Linked DNA regions of Homo sapiens. The protein of the gene in region 4 interacts with the protein of the main gene of each other region in a biochemical or structural test. Each region holds a gene or a part of one and is shown on either strand. Other genes may lie near its edges.

Region 1 (4,194 bases), on a different chromosome or scaffold from region 4:
TAGCCTCAATCCTTCCAAATCATAAAGCTATTCTAAAATATGCTGCAAAAAAGTCACCTAGAGGACAACTGTCTTATTTACCTTTATAAAATTAATTTCCTATCAGAATCATGTGAGAAGTTTACTCCTCCCATTTTGGGGAGTTGGTTTGGAAGGGGGAGTTTAGCTTTTAATTTCTATCAACCCCTGACCTCTGTGAACTTCAAACATGCTCCCAGCCTCAGCAGCCAAAGTGAAAAGCCCAAGCAATATGTTTTCTCCCAGACACTTAAACTCGGCTCAGTTTGATTCTGGCAGCCCACTCACTTGCCTGTCTTTCCCACCCCACCCCACCCCCCCGCCCCAGCTTATGGAGCTGGGAAGGATGCTGAGCTGCATTATAGGAATTCTGCTTCCACTAAATCAAAAACCCGCCAACCTTCTGAGTCTAAATATTTCCAGCTCTGGCTCTAGGCTCCTTTTCTCCAAAGTTGTGACTTTATTGCCTTCAACATAATTGCTTCACATAGAGTATATATTCTAGAAGCAAAAACCAGCTCCAAATACAAAACACTACAATACAGAAATAGCCATGCCAGTGATTTGGTGAAAATAGGCTGAAAAAGGAACAGCAAATGACTCCAGGAGACACCACTTGATAGAAATGGGAAGCTCAAGGAAGAATGATAATGTGGTTTGATCATCAAGATATGTGGAGTTTAAAAAGAAGAAGCTTAACGCAAGAGGATATGAAGAGACGCTTAAGTATAAAACTAAAATCAAGAAATAACCTTAGAACAAAGACAGTTTAGGAGGATGACTTAGGACCAGTGAGTACAAAGAAAGAACTTATAGAGAACTTAATTCATACTAGTCCTGTGAGTCAGAAAAGAGAAAAAGAAACCTGCAAATTATTACTAATAACCTATGCACCAAATATGAGGAACTATGGCTCAGACAGGACAAATGACCTTTTTCTGTGTCATGCAACTTGTGAGAGGGATTTCATCCTGGGTCTTTCAGACTTGGGAACCCATCTTCTTGCCACTAAATCACTCTGCCTGTCAGAAACAGAAAAGCAGCCACCAAAGCAGGATAATAGAAGGGTTCAGCCAGGGCCCACATCCCTGCTCTCTGCTCTCTGATTTACTGCGTTCTACAAGTTAATGAACCTCTTTGTACCACAGCTGCTTCCTCTATAAAATAATACCTATATCATAAAATGTTGGGAGCACAAACAGGTGTATAAAACACTTCAAATAGGCCAGGAGCAGTGGCTCACACTGTAATCCCAGCACTTTGGGAGCCACAGGCGTGTGGATCACCTGAGGTCAGGAGTTCGAGACCAGCCTGCCCAACATAGTGAAACCTCGTCTCTATTAAAAGTACAATAATTAGCTAGGTGTGTAATCCCAGCTACTTGGGAGACTGAGGCAGAAGAATCGCTTGAACCCAGGAGGCGGAGGTTGCAGTGAGCTGAGATCATGCCATTGCATTCCAGCTGGGGCAACAAGAGCGAAACTCAGTCTCAAAAAAATAATAATAATAAAAATAAAACACTTCAAATAGTGCCTGAGATATAGTAAAAGTTTTGTAAGTGCCAGATAGTGGTGTAATTATCATTATATTAGGTATAAGTCAGTGAAAGCCAGAAAGAATAGATTTGTTTGAGACAGGTTCTCACTCTCTTACCCAGGCTGGAATACAGTGGTGCAGTCATGGCTCACTGCAGCCTCAAACTCCTGGGCTCACATGATCCTCCTGCCTCAGCCTCCCTACAGGCACCTGCCACCACACCCAGCTGATTTTGTTTATTTTATTTATTTGTCTTTAGAAACTATGTTGCTCAGGCTGGTCTCAAACTCCTGGTTTCAAATGATCCTCCCACATCATGGCATGAGCCACCATGCCCAGTCCTGATTTCTGTTTATCAGCAACTTCCAGCACTAATTTTCACATTTTAACATACACATGAATCACCTGGGGATCTTGTTAAACACACAGATTCCGATTCAGTGGATCAAAGGTGGGACCTGGGATTCTGCCTTTCCAACAAGCCCCAGCTGAGCTAATGACGCTGGTCTACAGACCACATTCTGAGTAGCAAGGACTTAGCCGAAAGAAATAGCTTTGGTCTTGAACCAGAACTTAAGGAAATGGGGGAAGAGTGGAGCAGAGCAGGAATGAGAAAAGTCCAGAGAAACCAGGGACAAGCCAAATTTAGTAACATGAGACCTATGACTGCTGTGCTGAACAGTGCCCTCTGATTTCACTAGGGGGAAAGCCCCAGTGAAAGTGGTGCCATAATCTAAACAGATTACTGAGCTCTTGAAAAATAAAAACAATGAGAAAGGGATAATAAAGAAGTACAGACCGCGGGCGGTGGCTCACGCCTGTAATCCCAGCACTTTGGGAGCCCGAGGCAGGCGGATCACAAGGTCAAGAGATGGATACCATCCTGGCCAACATGGTGAAAACCCATCTCTACTAAAAATACAAAAATTAGCTGCGCGTGGTGGCACACGCCTGTAGTGCCAGCTCCTCGGGAGGCTGAGGCAGGAGAATCACTTGAACCCAGGAGGCAGAGGTTGCAGTGAGCCGAGATCGCATCACTGCACTCCAGCCTGGTGACAGAGCGAGACTCCGTCTCAAAAAAAAAAAAAAAAAAGAAGTACAACAGAAAAGCCCAGGAGAATGATATTTGTAGGACAAGCCACCTCTCTCAGTACTTAGTATTAAATGTTTTGAAACAACAGTGAAATCAGCTGGAGAACCTTCTTTTGGAAGCTGTCCTAGCCTTTGCTTTATTACACAGGTCTTAGCGCTGGCCTCTGATATTGTCATTCAGAGTTCAAAGAAAAATGTAGGTTTTGTGAGGTTTTGGTGTAGTTTTTTTTTGCTTGTTTGTTTGTTTGAGACAGGGTCTCACTCTGTTGCACAGGCTGGAGTGCAGTGGCATGAGCACAGCTCATTACAGCCCAGACTCAGGTGATCCTCCCATCTCGACCTCCCCAAGTAACTGGGACCACAGGTGCAAACCACCACACCTGGCTAATTTTTGTTTTTTGTTTTTTGTTTTTTTAAATGGGGTCTCGCTTTCTTGCCCAGGCTGGAGTACAGGGGCGTGATCCCAGCTCACTGCAACCTCTGCTGCCCAGGTTCAAGCGATTCTCTGACCTCAGCCTCCCAAGTAGCTGGGATTACAGGCATGCGACACCACACCCAGCTAATTTTTATATTTTTTAAGTAGGGATGGTGTTTCACCAAGTTTGCCAGGCTGGTCTCAAAATCCTGACCTCAAGTGATCTGCCCACTTTGGCCTCCCAAAGTACTGGGATTACAGGCGTGAGTCACGGCACCTGGCCTAATTTTTATTTTTTGTAGAGACAGGGTTTCACCGTGTTCCCCAGGCTGGTCTCGAACTCTCAGGCTCAAGCAATCCTCCCACCTCAGCCTCCCAAAGTGCTAGGATTACAGGGCTGAGCCAACATGCCCAGCCGAAAAATGTGTTTTAAAATACCTAAAATATGGCCAGGCGTGGTGGCTCATGCCTGTAATCCCAGTACTGTGGGAGGCCGAGGTGGGTGGATCACTTGAGGTCAGGAGTTCGAGACCAGCCTGGCCAACATGGTGAAACCCTGTCTCTACTAAAAATACAACAATTAACCAAGCGTGGTGGCGGGTGCCTGTAATCCCAGCTACTCGGGAGGCTGAGGCAGGAGAATTGCTTGAACCTGAGAGGTGGAGGTTGCAGTGAGCCAAGATTGCACCACTGCACTGCAGCCTGGGCAACGAGTGAGACTCCATCTCAAAAGAAAAAAAAACTATTAATGAATAATTAATAGTTACTAATACCTAATAGGTGTTAATCACTTAATAGTTATTAAGTAATAACTATTAATGTTGAAAGGGTAGATTTGGGAATTCCTAGCCAAATTAATTTAAACTTATGCTATTAACTCATAACATGAGCTCTTCTTAGACTATAGAGAACCACCTCCCTCCCAAAATACAAAAAAAGCCTTTATAAGTACCCAAGTCTGAATCAGCACTGTCCTGTAGACAATAATGCAAGCCACATACATAATTTTAAATTTTCTTGTAGCCACATTTTTAAAAATTTTTAAATAGATGAATTTAATTTAATAATATATCTTATTTAATACAATATATCCAAATATTATCATTTAACGTGATATTTTTAAAATAGTTATT
Region 2 (5,226 bases), on a different chromosome or scaffold from region 4:
GGGAGGGGAGAGCCTCTAGCCATGCCCCACTCAAGCCCTGCCTCCAAGAGGCCCTGAGCAGAGGCCCAGAAAGCCAAGTTGACAATGTGTGCGCTTCCAGCCCTGGGGGTTGGGGAGATGGGAAAGGCTCACATCCAAATACTCAACATTGACTGAGAAGCTCTCGGCCCCAACTGGGCCCTGGACAACAGAGATATGGGCCTGAACATGGACAGATATGTTCTGGGGAGCTCAGGGTGAGACCAGCCACACATGGGGCTCTGCAGGGGACGTGCTCAGGCTCTGGGGCAGGGAAGGGACAGCCCACACAGCATTTGCCCTTCCTGAAAAGCCCACAAGGCTCACTCCTTGTCTTCACCCAGTCTTTGTTCACAAGATGCCTCCCCAGAGCCACTTTCCTATCTAAAAGAGCACACTCTCCCTCCTACCACCTGCCATGCTCCATCCTCCTCCCTTCTTCGTTGTTTTTTTGTTTTTGTTTTTTGTTTTTTTTTTTTGCACAAATCACTACCTGGCATTCTTTTATATTTATGTCTTTGTCTGTCTTTGCCGCCTCCTTCTAGAATGTAATCTCCACATGAAAAGGACTTTGTTTCATTCGCAGCATAGATGGGGGCCTAGAATAGTGCCTGGCACCTGGTAGATGTTTCACAGCATTCCCTAGCTGAGGCTGGGAGGGCCAGCAGGACTCAGCTGGAAGTCACGTGGGGCCCCTTTAACAGGCTGAAGGGAAAACAGCAGCAGTGGGAGGCAGTGATGGTTCTGGCAGAGGTCTGGGGGAAACTGAATGCCACTGGGGTGTTCCCATGTGAGACCCCATTCAGACACAATTGGCCTCCCGCAACTGCCCACTTCCCTCGCCACCCTCCATCCCTGCCCAGTCTAGCCCAGTAGTTACCACAACCGATCCCGGCAGATGTAGTGTCATCGGGGCCTCTCCAGCCAACAGGATGAACTCTGGCCTGGAAAACTGGAGGAAAACAGTCACATATGGTAGAGAAGACAACAGATTCCAGGCTTTGGGTCTGGGCTTCCCCCATGATGCACCTCTGCAGCCCCCACCAGCATACATTCCCCAGAGCCAGCAGAAAACAGGCCAAGATGGGGCTGACCTGGGCTGAGGCCCCAGCTGAATGGTACATCTTGGAGCAGAAGTCTTACAGGTGGGTATAGGGTATCAGCAACATTCTGGCTCTTAAGTTGGGTACAGGGGTGTTCGGGGTGAATTATAAGTTTCATAATTTACACAGAACTCCATCTTTTGTATGTATCAAAAGTATAAAATGTATAATATAAATATAAATGCAATAAAAATACTTGAAAAAACAAAAATACTTTTAGATTTAGATGAGCTGAAATGTTTTCTAGCTCTAGATGTTGAATCAATAGCTTAGTGGGCACCTCTTGTTCTCAGTGTGTTTGTATTACACTTGACCCAGAAAACACTGCAATACCCATCACTAGCTAGACCCAGCTATCCCCCTGTGGGGTGCATATTCTCAACCCATTTTACAGGTGAGGAAGTTGAGGCTCCTCACCTTTAAAAAAAAAAAAAAAAGCTTAAGAAGCTCACCTGAGTCATATAACCAGCAAGAGATAGGGTTGGGTAGGGCTTCTATAGTGCCCCCAAGGGTACCTAGCAGGACTCTTGTCCCAAGAGGCCAAAATTCCAGCCCAGAAGTGACTTGTGTCCTGCAAGAGTTCCCAATAGAAGTATCTCTAGTGAGTGATCAGGAAGAAAAGCCAAAGGAGGTGGACAAAGCCTCTCAGAAGCCCTCTTCACGCCCTCCACCAAGTTCATGGAGGCCAGAGAAGGGCCAAGGAGGACAGTGCGGGCCAGGCCAGCGTATGGGAACCATAGGCCAAACAGGAAGAGGGACATCCTGAGGCTATTTGGAGCTCAGCTCAGTCAAGGGACCTTAACTAACTTTGACAGACAGACAGGCACATTCCGCCTAACCCTATTACCCTCTTAGGGTTAGCCAGCTGGAAGGATAACTCTCTCCTCCCTATAGAAGCCCTCCCTGCGGCCCTGGATCTATGCTCCCACCTTTCACCTGTGCAGAAGGCCCCTTCCAAACACATTCTGCCTTGTCAGTTCTCGAATCATGTAGCACGCTCTGCCACCACCCTGCGCACCGGTGGCTTCCTCTAGGGTGGGACCCAGCATCTTTAACCCTACATCTTATACAGCGTCCCCCATAGAGCCTTCCCCAGTGAGGCTACTCAGTGAATGCCTATGCCCTAAGTTGCAAATTTCAGGTTTATGTTAGTCCAATCCTATAAACCTCAGCCCAGGGAAGTTGTCCCCTAGAAGACCCTGCCCATTTTCAGCCACCGTGCCAGCCACCCACAGCTCCCTGCTCAAGCCTCCTTGAGGAGTGTCCTTCAGCCTTATTTTGCTTACCTTGCTCCTTCTTTGCAGAAAACCCCTCTGAGAAGGAGTTGTTGGCCATGAGCTGTCTGCTGCCGAGTGCACAGATCCAGAGCTGAGCCTCCGGCCCGCCTGCTGGTCCTGGGGATCTGCTCCTGGAAGAGCGCTGGCCAGGGGTTGAGAAGGGGTGAAGCACTTAGCAATGGCAAGGGCTTCCATGGCATGAAAGACCACCCGCACAGGGGCTCAGTTGGGCAGGGTGCACCCACTGATGCATGTCACCTTCTCCCCCACCTATGGGGGAGTTATATCCATTTTTCAAGTGGGGGAAGCTGAGGCCTGGAGAAGCCAGGCTGCACAGCCACTGGGGTGGGGTGGGGTTGGAGGTACAAGGCACAGTCGACTTCTCCACCCCATGGCTTTACCTCTCTGTTTGTGGTGCCAGGACCCCAGGTCTAGAGCAACCACCCAGCAGGTCATGGGACTGCAGCAGTTCTGGCTTCTTTAGAATTTGATATGTTGTTCAAAATATTTTGACAATAAAATATATTGTTTAAGGAATCAGGGGGTAAAAATTGTTTTCATTGGGAAAATAAAGTTTTAAATGGCAGGAAAAAGTATTGCAAGATAAACTCTACGATATCCAATCAGGGCGTCAGCTGTGGATTTGACATCAACTATGACAAGACACTGTTACAGCCCTCAACAGGTCACCATGTGAATAAATAAATCACCCAAACTTCAAAATAAACACCGTTCCAGGTCCAGGAAGATATGAGCCCATCTAGGTTTTGATCTGATTCAAGCATCCTAAGTTAGACAATTGCAAAAATGTCCACAGTTCTTCTCCCTGATCTGCACCCTTTGCAATCCGACTTTGCAGCCTCCTGCCATCAAGAGATGGAGTCTATTTCTTACTCCTTGAAATGGGGCTGGCCTTTAGGCCTGATATGGCCAACAGAATGAAGTGGAAATGATGGAAGACCAGTTCTGAAGGCTTTATGCACCTTGCCGTCCTCTCTCCTCTCTCTCCTCTTTCTCTCTGTCTCTCTGTCTCTCTCTCTCTCTCTCAGTTCCTCTCTGTCAGTTCTGCCATTGTCACGAGAACAATCCTAGGCTGACCTGCTGGTGGAGGAGAGCCAGAGCTTCCCAGACAATGGCCATTCACCCCGCAGGAGAAGCTGGATAGCCGAGCCGAAGACAGTCAAAAAGGCAGGAAGGCTTTCAGCAGAGTCTAGAAGACCTCCCAGCTGAGCACAGCCTAAATGACCAACTCACAGAATCATGAGCTAAATTCATAATTGTTGCTTTTAGCCACTGTGTTTTGTGGTTGCTTGTTATGCAGCATGGTATGGCAATGGATAATGGCAACAATATTGAGGCATGTTGTTGCTCCGCCACTCGGCCTGAGTATGGTTCCCAGAGGAAACAGGATGCCCTGACAGCACAGCTGCCACCAGGCCCCTCATTATCTTGGCTTCGGATCTGCTTAAATGTGGCTTCTTCATCTGTTAATGGAATAGCATTGGCATTTTCTGGAGGAGCAAGAGGCTTCTTACTAATAATCAGTAAAGAAATAAGGTACCATAGCCCCCACACCTATGTCTCACATCAAGTTCACAGCACCCTTTAGGCCTTGCTGCTTACCGGTTAACAAGGAGGCTGCAGTGACTGTGTGTCAAGGTGCTCCAATGGGGCTCTGGTGAGCTCTGGGTCTCCGTGCTTCTTTCTGAAACTAATCAAGCAGCATGGTAGAGGGTATGGGCAGAAGCCAAGATCACGGCTTTCTTAAATCAGGCATCTCAGAGCATGAATGGCATCATGACTTACTAGCTGTGTGACCTTGGTGAAATTCCTTAGCCTCTCTGAATCTGTTTCCTCATGTAGAAAACAGAAATGACAGTTACAGAGGGTTGGAGGGAGGGTTACAAGGGAAGATAAAGCCTAATGGCAAAGTGCACTTTGTTTTAGAGACAACAAACAATAACATTAATTTTTTTAAAAAAAGCTCAGATTTAGTTGAAAAGTAGAGAACAGTAGATTTGAAGATTATTCCAAAAACCACTCTTTTAACACACCCAGAACAATAACTGAAAAAAAAATCAAGTTTTTCTTTTCTTGTTGTTTGTTTCAATTTGGATTTTCTCAACTTGGACAGTTAGAACTCATTTTTAAAGTTTTCATTTGATATAAATAACTGTGTTGTGTCCCCAAATAAGACTTTCCTGGGAACACAGGTGAGTCCTAAGCTCAGCCCCTTCTCTTCAGGGGCTTCCTGAAAGAGTGGCACTTACATAGGCTTTCTCTGCCATCACAATGTGGATGTGTAGCCCATACAGGGCAGGAAAAAATAGAATGGGTACCATCAGCCCACGCAGGGACTGCTTAGGGCACGTACCCACCTCTGCAAGGATGCAGACACTCCGGGGCCTGTGCCGCTGGGCTCTCGCTGCTTGTCCCACGCAGCCTCTTCCTGAGCAGGTAGCTTCTGTTCTGCTGCACAGAGGAGCTTTCCTCCACAACTCTTTTCTCCACCTGGGGGTCAAGTGCATCACACATCCACATCCCAAGATAAGGAGGGGGCGTTTTTATAGATACATGCAAACTGGCTGTCAGACTGAATCAATGTGGAATTGTCTGCCCTATACGGTGACCTAAAGATGTGTTCTCTGGCACCCAGAATGTGCTCTGTGCCCACCCCCTGCATGCACCCTGAAGGCACTTCACTCCCCACTCCAGACCTGCACACTCACACACATCTGTGCCTTTGCTCATGCATTCCCTCCATGGCTACAGCCTCCCCAGAAGCTCCTCTGTGCCCACAAGACCCAGAGCTGTGTGCTTTCTACTTC
Region 3 (5,226 bases), about 110 Mb from region 4:
TATTATCCTCAAGGAATAGAAACTCATTTGACCCAAGTGTATAAGAGGCAGATATCTATTCTGGTTTGCAAACTTAAAAGGCACACAGAGGCAAGCATCTGAGTCATTTTGTACAAAAATCTAAGGGTTTAGGAAGAGTGCAGTGACCCCAGAACCCATCTCAAGAGAGATAACTGATTTCACAAAATAGTCTCTGGTTCAGAACCTGGCTCTTGTTTTAAAGTATGGATTCCTAACAAGACTGTATGCTGCCTCTTGATGATGACCTCTTCCGCTGTGGGCAAAAGCAAAACTACAAATATTCTGCTACTATTAACTTTTTCATGCTACAAATGGATACATCAGAATAAAGTTAAAATCTAAAACCATCACATTAAGCTCTGATTACACACTGGGGCTATTACAGTTTCAGCTTTAGGGGCACAGATTATTTTCTGAGCCATAGCTTTATTTTCATGAGAAATAAATTCTACAGCTTTTCTTAGGTTTGACTGAATTACAGATTTTTCTGAATGTTAAGAAAAAATGAGGCTTTACATTGTACTACTATGGATAAGGTGAACCATCTTAAGGATTCCCAGGGTTACCTCTTCTAGGGTGGTACAGTGAAAGGAAGTGGGGATTTACTGTAAAAGAATAAAAATTTAAAAATCAACACAGTTCAACTTCACACCTCACTTTCAATTGGCTGTAAAGCCTTAATCGAGTCACAATTATGTTAAGCCTTGGTTTCTCCATCTACAAAACTAGATACTGATCTCCAGCTCATAGGGTTACAAGGATTAGGTAAGGAGTCATAACGCCTGGCAAAATATACAGCACTATAAGAACATAATCTATTACTATTTTATGAGAAGCTAGGTTATTAATTTCTTTCTAGTTTAATGTCTTTACCATCATCCTCTAGCTTTAAAGTTGGACCACAACATCTTATCATATAGTATTATTAGACGTGCTCAATTGGGCCTCAGTTGTCTGAAATAAGATGGCATAAAGTATTAGACCTGTACTAAAAGAGCTGGACATGTGTTAGGTGGTTTTCCTATGGTCCACATGTAGTTTGGCAGAAGTGAGAGGATTCTAAAAAATGCCACAAGGCCCTTCTGTTATGGACAGTTTTGGATGTACAATGAGGAAGGAATTTCATCCTCACCATCTTGTCTTCTGAATTGTATTCTTAGCTCCTGACCCTGTGCTTGACATATAATAAGGGCTTAATACAAGTTTGTTGGATTAAATTGTCTGTAAGATACAGTAGAGGGGTCATCTAAGAAGCTGGAGTGGGAAAGGGGGATGGAGAAAAATGTCCTAAGGAGAGAGCCTCCCTGGAGCAGTGAGGCTCTGCCTGAAAGCAAGTTGTTCATGGTCACGGGTATCCTGAAGGCAGGATGAAGGCCTTGTCCAGCTGAGGAGAGACTGGGCTGAGGGCAGAGAAGCCCGAGAGTGAAGCCCAGTCGGTGCAGACTGCGGGCATTCTCAGCTGTACTGTGGTATGCAATGGTCATTGTGAGACCAGGACTGGCATGAGGCTGGCCTGCGCAGGAGGGCCTGGGACCAGTGTAGTCAACCAGACCAACAGGAGGAGCAGGACCTGGGCAATCCCTATCCCCAGGGCCGCTGGCCCAAAGAGACTCAGGCAGCCAGGATGCCTATGGCCGGCCCTCAGGGCTAGGTGGATCTGAGAGATCACAGTTCTGAGAGGCAGGGACCCAGGAAGCAGGAGAGAAGAGTGCAGGTGAGCTCATCCAGCACTCAGGGGAGCAGAGGAGAGTGCCCAGCCGGGGTGAGGAGGTGCTTTGGGGCCAAGTGCAATGGGTAAAAGTAACTGCTGTGGGTGTCCTGAGGAGGCTGAGAGAAGTGTCTCCCACTCAGCAGTGCAGAGCAATGCATGGCTGTGCAAGGGCAAGGAGAAAGGGAGAGCTGGACGCTATGGGTGGAGCAGCAGCAGCAGCGGCAGCAGCAGCAGTGGCGGTGGCGGCGGCAGCAGCGGAGGCAGGTAAGGCAGAAAGCCCTCGAAAGTGGACTTAGGTAATGCAGAGGGAGTCTGAGGAGCCCTGCAGCCAGCATACTGCTAGAGACATTACTACCAGCAGAAAACGACGTTCAGGTGAAGACCAGTGTGGAACCCAAGGAGAGGATGTCGAAGACCAGGACCAGGATTGAGACTTTGCCTCTAGCCACCCCTGGCCAGAAGATTTTTCCAATCCCTAGTAAGGAGGGATTAGTAGTTAAACAAAAATCAATCTGTGGTACACATCATATATTTAGTTCTATATAGGTCCAAGTTAATTGTTAAGTAAACGGCAGTGTTCACCCTACTGCTGCTTTCCTCCCTAGCCCCTTGAACAGATCCTTTTGTGGTTTCCAAAGTTCCAAGTTCAAGAACCCCATCAGGTGTTGTAAACGGAAATGGGTGAACCCACTGGCCACGAATTAGGATCCTGGAGCCCAGAAACTGAGCTGTCAGGTCCCAGGTCACACAGACTCTGGCTATATAGGTTCTGTCCTTGCTTTAGGGATGGTTAGGGGACCAAGTCTCATACAGTGGCCCTTGAACAGGGATTCGCCCTGCCTAAGATAGCCAGGTAAGCCTCCTGATGAAACACAGCCTGCTTGAGGGAAGCTGGTCTACTATTTCAGCAGGTAGCATACTGGTTCTATTTCTAAGGGTTAAAGGAGATTTGGTACAGATCAGTCCTAGAAATGGCAGACCCAGGAGTCACATGGCACCCACAAGCCTCTCCTATAACCCACCTTGATGTCTACAACTCCCAAATCCTTCCTACTATACTTTGCCTCCCATATCTACTTGGTTTGTACTCAGAGATGAAAAAACAGCTTGTCAGCATTTTTGATGTAAAGCCTTCAGCTTTCTCTTTTTCAAGTTTAATAATTCCTACTGCAAGACATATCTAGAAACCATTTCATCATCTCTGTGTCTGGCTCTCTTTTGAGTCCTCTTCCAAGTCTTTATCTCTCTCCTAGTTTTTGCTCAGGGTCAGGCATTGTGCTCAGGTAAGGAAATGGCAGAGGCTGAGAGCCACCATGGGTTTCCATCCCTGCTGTCTCTGACATCTGGGCTCACTCATGCTTGCTTTCATAAAGCTAGTGCTGTGTTTCAGACCCAGGCCCCAGGATCAGTTTCTCACTGGAGATTAACATAATGTGCTGGTAGAGGCTCTGATGGTCCAGCGTGAGCTGTACCCAGAGAGGGAAGGTGGCTGTTGTGATAACAAAGTGCCAGAGCCTCATCCTGAGGTCAGATGATCGTAGGATTTCTGGCAGGCGTAGACACAATCAGGAACCTTACTGAGCTTCTGCATATAATAAACCTCTTAAGAGAATAATCTCTGCTTCTTAAATACATGGTGTGTGCACTGAGTCCAACGATTAGTCAGCTGGCATTCTAGACTGTGAACCCCCAACGCCTCCATTACTGATACTTTTCTGTGGTTTATGAAATTATTATGTGACCTGTGACTTTCTGATGGCATTTTTGATTTCAGAATCTGTGCTTATTGGCATGCAGGCAGGATGTCAGACATTCGGGGAGGCTGGGCATTACCTGAGGCTCCACGTCCAGTATTGCAATCAGCCCCTGCTCGTGGATCTTCCGGATGGTCTCCAGTTTTGTCCCATACATCGCATCCTCGTGGCTGCCGTACTCCAAGTACTCGTTATTAGAGATGTCTTGCATCATTTGGTCATGAGATACAAAGTAATAATTCTTTCCATTTTCTTCGTCTTTCTTTGGAGGTCTGGTTGTATCTGCAAAGTCGCATGGCACAAGAGGTTTAAAAGGCTGAGCTGATGAGCTTACTACACTCCCAACAGATTTACTCAAACCCAGTCTCTTCCTAAAAGCTGTGGATTCTTTAGCGTATATCTCATATCCCCTGTTCTCACCCCCAGTGGCTTTGCAGAACTAAATTCTAGAAACCATATTTATCTGTGTGCATCACACCATAGTAGCCAGTGAATTGTCTGGTTTGGTGAAACTTTCAGTGTTCAGGTGAGATGTATTTTATCCCTTCATGAACCACCACAGGAGGAAGACGTGAAATGACCCAAGATTAATATAACTCACTGTATGCCTTAATGCAGTTGGGTCTTGTGTAGAAGGAAAAAAGGAGAATAAAAAAATGGAAAACTGCATATGGTTAAATTTAAATAAGCCAAAATTAAATAAAATTCAAATTTTAGTTTCTCAGTCTCACTAGTGGCATTTCAAGGATTCAATAACCACGTATGGTTAGTGGCCACTGTACTGGACTGCACAGACATCAAGTACTGTCATTGTCACAGAAAGTTCTATTGAAAAGTGATGTTCTATAACATCTTGCAAAAGGAGAATGTTAGGATACAGCAAAAGACACGTTACACTGAAAACACAATGACTGTGGCCAGACATACCCATAATTATTATGGAAGACCTAAATCAGGAGGTGACAAACTGGCTTATGGGCCAAACATGGTCTACTGTCTTTTTTTATTTTTATTTTTTTATTTTGGAGACAGAGTCCCACTCTGTAGCCCAGGCTGGAGTGCAGTGGTGCGATCTCAGCTCACTGCAACTTCCACCTCCTGGGTTCAAGAGATTCTTGTGCCCTCAGCCTCCTGAGCAGCTGGGATTATAGGCGTGTACCACCATGCCCAGCTATTTTTTGTATTTCCAACAGAGACGGGGTTTCACCATGTTGGCCAGACTGGTCTCAAACTCCTGACCTCAGGTGATCTGCCCGCCTCAGTCTCCCAAAGTGCTGGGATTACAGGTGTGAGCCACTGCACCTGGCCACCTACTGTCTGTTTTTGTAAACAAAGTTTTACTGGAACACAGCCATGTGCTTTTGTTTACATATTGCCTATGGTTGTTTTCATGAGACAACAGCAGAGCTAAGTGCTTGTGATAGACTGTATGGCCTTAAAGCCTCAAATGTGTACTATCTGGTCCTTTACAGAAAAGGCTTGCCCACCCCTCACCTAAGTGAGTGTAACTGAAGTATATGCCAATAAGCTCTAGTTCTGTGGATACTAATAGGACCAGTATCCTGCAAAACACACTTTAGGAAATGTTTTTCTAGATGAGCCAGGAACACTGGTTTTAATATTCTCTCTCCCTACCCCCCTTTCTTTTCTCCCTTCCTTCCCTTTTTTTCCCTCTCTCTCTCAATTTCTTTGCTTCCTTCTTTCTTTGAGAAAGAACAAATTTATGCTACTCTCTTCTGT
Region 4 (5,226 bases):
CTGGCTAGACAGAGTAGGCTTTTCTTATCTGCGCCTGTTGGCATTTCTGACTCACTGGTTTCTTCAGCAATGAGTCTGGGACATACGTGGCAAAAACAAACCCAGGAAACTCACAACCATGTCATTCCTTGGGTCTTGAGGTCCCTAGCTAGTCTGCCTTTTCTACCTTTCAGAGTATTCTTATGTTTATTTTGCAGATAATGTCCAAGGTTTTTAGTTGTACTTAGTACAAAGAATAAGAGAAAATACATTTGCTCCATTTTTTCCAGAAACAGAAGTCTAAATCTTAACATTTTTAAGAAATAATTATTTCCCACAAAAACCATGATAGGATAGCACTCTTCTATCTATTACAGTGGTTACAAAACTGGAGGCCTATGGTTTTTAAAAAAATTTAATTGCTGTTAGGTGGGCATTCTGTACTCTCCAGTTCTCTACAGCACTCTTCCATGTCTGCCTAGATTTGTGAACTGTTCCATGAAGGCATCTGAGTTTGCAAGCTCTGATTTATAAGTCACAAGGCCAGGCTATAGATTACAGAAGTAGATTTTGAAGGTTCATGCTAAAGCTTCCCTTTTCATAGACTAGGGCCCAATTTAAGAAATGTTAACCAAGACCCAGCTCAAGCATAATGAAGTCTTTCCTATACTCTGCCTTCGACTTCCCTCCAAATGTAATTACTGTACTATCCCATCCAATGATTAAACTTAGTATAAGGCCATCTCCATTTTCTCATTTTTCTTCAGAATGTTTAGAGAAGAGATATAGCTACTGTGTGTGTGTGGGTGAGGGAAGGAGAACAGAGAAGAGCTGATGATAATGATGAAGCAAGAGGAAGGAAGATGATCACATTAAAACTATAGTGTCCTAATTTTCATAAAGCTGGCCCAGATCAAATTCTTTTGAACACAATTGAATAATGTTCTAGCAAGAAAGGCATTTAGAGGTGAATAATCTAATCCAAGCCCCTTTATCCTTCCAGAAAAGGAAACTGAGCCTCAGAGACTATACAAGGTCACAAGCTAACCAATATTGTTTGTACTACTCCATCATGTTCTCTTTTCATAACCTAGTCCTACTTTCCAAACAATGGAAGCTGTGATCAATGATGTCACTTCTACTAATAGTTCCTAAAAATGTTTCCATTTGTAACTGTATTATTTCATCTAATCTACAGAAGATTACATTCAAATTTTGTTCTTAAAATTTCTGGCAAATTCAAGAGAAATTTTTTACCATTTGTTAGCCTAGTAAAAATGAAAGCAATTGAGTTGGTAGTGGAGGGGGGACAAGCAAAACAAATATTTTATTACATTTTGTGTAATAGTCTTAATTAACAGGCCAATCTTCAGGATGACTCGGTATTAAATCAGGCATTTATTAATTTAGCTGCCACACAATTCAGTATAATAGCTATCTACTCTTTCAGCTGGGACAATGCTTGCCAAACTTGCCATTTCACATACCACCTCAACAAGTTTGGCTTGCTGTATCTGCCAACTGCCCATACTAATTTTGTATTTATCTTTATATTGATTTAAAATCCATTCCTTTTTAATACTTTGCCTGCTCTAAGCCATAACATCTACTAAATCACAAGCCTGATGTGCTGATTTTTCTAATACACAAGAAAATAATTACATAGCTACTAAAATACGTCCATGGACATACCATCTAAACTCATGTCACGTGATACCAGCGATATTCTTACTGTACTTTAGATGAGCTGACCCTGGGCTGACTGACAATTTATGATATGAGTAAATAATAAAATAATTATTCTCCAATATCTGAGTTGCTAATTATTCAGATTCTTAGTAATATACCAGAAATGCAGGGTCCCATCACCAATTTCAACAGACAGAAACTCAGGAAGCCTAGGTTTTCAGATTTTATCATGCATAAGAAATATATGAGACACTTGTTTCCCTCCCTCAGACACTCTGATTCAGTAAATCTGGGATGGAGCCCGGGAAGCTGCATTTTTACAGGTGCTCCAGAGAATGCTGTCTTGGGAAGACCCAAGGGTCACATTTTGAAAAACAGTGGATGAGGCTGGGTATGGTGGCTCACACCTCTAATCCCAGCATTTTGGGAGGCCGAGATGGGAGGATCGCTCGAGCCCAGGAGTTCAAGACCAGCCTGGGAAACGTAGTAAGACCCCATCTCTATAAAAAAAAAAAAAAGAAAGAAAGAAGAAGAAGAAAAAGAAGAAAAAAAAAGATCGAAAAGCAGTGGATGGGAATGGGGGTGGGACAAAATCTTAAAATCACTCTAGCTTTTCAATAGGATGACTTGAGTTCAAATCCCAAGTCTAACTGTATGACCCTAAGCAAGTCATTTCATCTCTCTAGGCCTCGGTTTCCTCATCCATTAAATGATGATTGTAGTAATAGCTACCTCAATGGACTTTTTTAAAGAAGCAAGATCTCTCTATGTTGTCTAGGCTAGAGTGCATTGGCTTTTCACAAGTGTGACCACAGCACACTGCAGCCTTGAACTCCTGGACTCAAGTGATCCTCCCATCTTAGCCTTCCAAGTAGCTGAGACTACAGACCACCACACCCAGATTCACTAGGTTGTTTTAAGGCTTAAATGGATGACATGTCAAAAAGCATTACAAAACCCCAGAGCCTGTATGTGTTAGAGGGTTGATGATGATGATGATGATGATGACATAGAACCATTCTCGACAGCCTGTTACAACTCAGAAGACAATCAGCATTTCAAATAAGATGCCAAGCATTCTGCTCCACATAAACATCTGCTCCCATTTAATTACTGATGTTGAGTTTAATCTATAATAAATTAGCCCCCAAATTAAGTGTGTATTTCAAATAAGACATTTACACAACAGATAATTTCAAATATCAGCTGATGACTGCAACTTAAATCCTCAAGGAACTTTATCTGGCTCTTCAGGGTCAACCCCATGCAATAGCTCCCATGCCAGAGGGGTCCCAAAGGCCCATTTTGGTTACCCTGATTTTAAGAACTACTTTATAGGGAACATGTACAATTATCCTTGTGGTTTAGAAATATTTTATGTATTTATTATGTAAAAAAAAAAACTCTCCTTGAAGAAAGTGTAACAACCCCTGAGTTATAAATTTAACACCAACTTTTCAGATTTGGCTGCAGGGCAAATATAACAAAGACAATTATAAAACATGCCCCCTTACAATAATTCATCAAAGACTTTAGCTATGATCTGATGTAGGAACTTAAAATTTAATTTCCAAAAGAAAGAAAGCCTTATTTTTTCTGAATACCATCTGTTCAACCATTCCAACATGAGCTAATTCAGCTACACAAAATTTGTAAATAGACTGAGATTGAAAAAACTTAGTTGCTTCATGTTAAAGTACAGATTCAGTCTGATCTATTCATGCAATGTTAGAAAGCTATGCACACAGTCGACATTCAATCTTTTATAGGACACACACAACACTAACAACTATTCAACCTTAATGAAAACATTACAGTTAACTCATAATTGTCCATAAAGAAAATCACCCCGAAGTGTGAGAGCTATTCTCTGCTAAAATGGGTTCTTAAGTCTCTCTACTCAGCGGGCAGTTTCTCAGCTAAGGTGCAGGCAATAGGGCAACTGGAACTGATGCGATCCGCAGCTGCTCAGTGACCAGCCATTCACGCATCAGTGATGCAGCAAATGCTTCTCCCACCTGGAGACAGTGTGTTTGCCCGACCAGGTTTTAAGGTCCAGGAGCCCCAGCTGCTCTTTTATGGGCAAACATGAACACCACATAGCAGGAAAAATGATTAAGAAATACACTGTCACTCTTCTAGCTGGGCAGATTATCCAATTTCTGCTAATCCACAGCTATGCCTTCCTTTGGTAGGCATAATCAACAGCATCTGCCAGTTTGGATGAGGCAAGAGACAGCACCATAGCCAAATCTCAATTAATTGGCCTCCTGAGCCTGTTTCTGCACTTGTTATTACCCTATGAGCTCTAAAGAGGAACTGAAGATAAAGCTCCTAAACAAGGAGTACCTATTAAGAATTAATTAGGATCTTTACTGTAATTCTTGATATTTGTAAGATTTGATGTCTGGCAAGGACCATGATATTGAGAGACTATTAACTAATGGTAGTCTGGGATACCAAATGCATTTTACACACACTTGTGAAAAATCAATCATCTCTTACTAGCAGGAAAAATGACCACTAATAAACAGAAACCTCAACTTAGGCAAACATCAGTACTGAAATATAAATGTGATTTCATTTAATATACCTATTAATAGTTTATTGACATTAAAACAAAGTTAGTCTTTAGCCTTAACAAAGATGGAACAAGCGATTTTTTTGATTTGTTAATTGATTCAATATTTATTGAGCAACTGTTATGCTCCAGGATTGTGCCTGGGAAGCCAGTGGTAAAACTGCCCTAGTCTCTGCTGACAAGGAGCTTATCACTTAAATTTAGAATAAGCAGGGAATCTAACTTTTAAAATGAACAAAAAGAGATTTTCACTTCAGTAAGGACTGAAAAATGAGGCTGCCCATACAATACTCTTTTGAGATTCTGGAAGGGTTTTTATACATTCTAGTATCACATGTTAATGCTGAATACTCACAGATAATACATAAATTAAAAAATTGTGAAGTTAGGGAAGTATTGTACATCAAGATATTTCCTGAAACTCACAATACTAACAAAGAAGCTATATGCATTTATTATTATAAAATGGAACTTGATTTTTAAAAGAATCATTGTCATCTAAAGACAGCTTCTCCTTTCAATTACAAAACTATGACTACATGTACTGGATACTGGTAAAATTTCTCTTCTACATTTCAGATCTAACAACAGAGAACCTTTCATCCTTATTCTCGAGCAAATGGCCATGTTGCATCAAAAGGCCAACAGCTCACTTGAATTAAAACTGCAAAGCTTCTTGGCTACTTAGCATACTGAAAATGAATTAAACACTCAATGTTGCTTACCTTGTAATCTCTGGACACATTTTCTGATGTCACTGAACCTGAAATCTGACTAGAAATTGTAGCAGCTATAAGCTGTTTACACCATTCAACATGTGATCCTGTGGGACTAAAAAAAATAGCATGGATTACAAAACGTTATATCATAGGATCTCAGTGAAAAAATTAGCACTGAATAGGAATATGATAACACTTCTTTTTTTAGATGAACTAACTAGACTCTTTGGTTACCTTCACATTTTATGTAAGAACTGA

The links.
Region 1: the proteins of MTMR1 (region 4) and HTRA4 interact in a test that uses a peptide from one of them, tested with the Homo sapiens proteins (one large-scale study listed by IntAct).
Region 2: the proteins of MTMR1 (region 4) and FRMPD2 interact in a test that uses a peptide from one of them, tested with the Homo sapiens proteins (one large-scale study listed by IntAct).
Region 3: the proteins of MTMR1 (region 4) and CASK interact in a test that uses a peptide from one of them, tested with the Homo sapiens proteins (one large-scale study listed by IntAct).

What each region holds. Positions count from the first base shown.
Region 1 is NC_000008.11:38,983,615-38,987,808, reverse strand, and holds part of HTRA4 (serine protease HTRA4 precursor), read right to left. Parts: intron 1-4,194. UniProt on the Homo sapiens protein: Serine protease.
Region 2 is NC_000010.11:48,235,584-48,240,809, forward strand, and holds part of FRMPD2 (FERM and PDZ domain-containing protein 2), read right to left. Parts: intron 4,910-5,226; coding exon 4,777-4,909; intron 4,110-4,776; coding exon 4,022-4,109; intron 2,541-4,021; coding exon 2,408-2,540; intron 971-2,407; coding exon 899-970; intron 1-898.
Region 3 is NC_000023.11:41,527,442-41,532,667, forward strand, and holds part of CASK (peripheral plasma membrane protein CASK), read right to left. Parts: intron 3,769-5,226; coding exon 3,566-3,768; intron 1-3,565. UniProt on the Homo sapiens protein: Multidomain scaffolding Mg(2+)-independent protein kinase that catalyzes the phosphotransfer from ATP to proteins such as NRXN1, and plays a role in synaptic transmembrane protein anchoring and ion channel trafficking.
Region 4 is NC_000023.11:150,699,049-150,704,274, reverse strand, and holds part of MTMR1 (phosphatidylinositol-3-phosphate phosphatase MTMR1), read right to left. Parts: intron 5,081-5,226; coding exon 4,975-5,080; intron 1-4,974. UniProt on the Homo sapiens protein: Lipid phosphatase that specifically dephosphorylates the D-3 position of phosphatidylinositol 3-phosphate, generating phosphatidylinositol. Could also dephosphorylate phosphatidylinositol 3,5-bisphosphate to produce phosphatidylinositol 5-phosphate.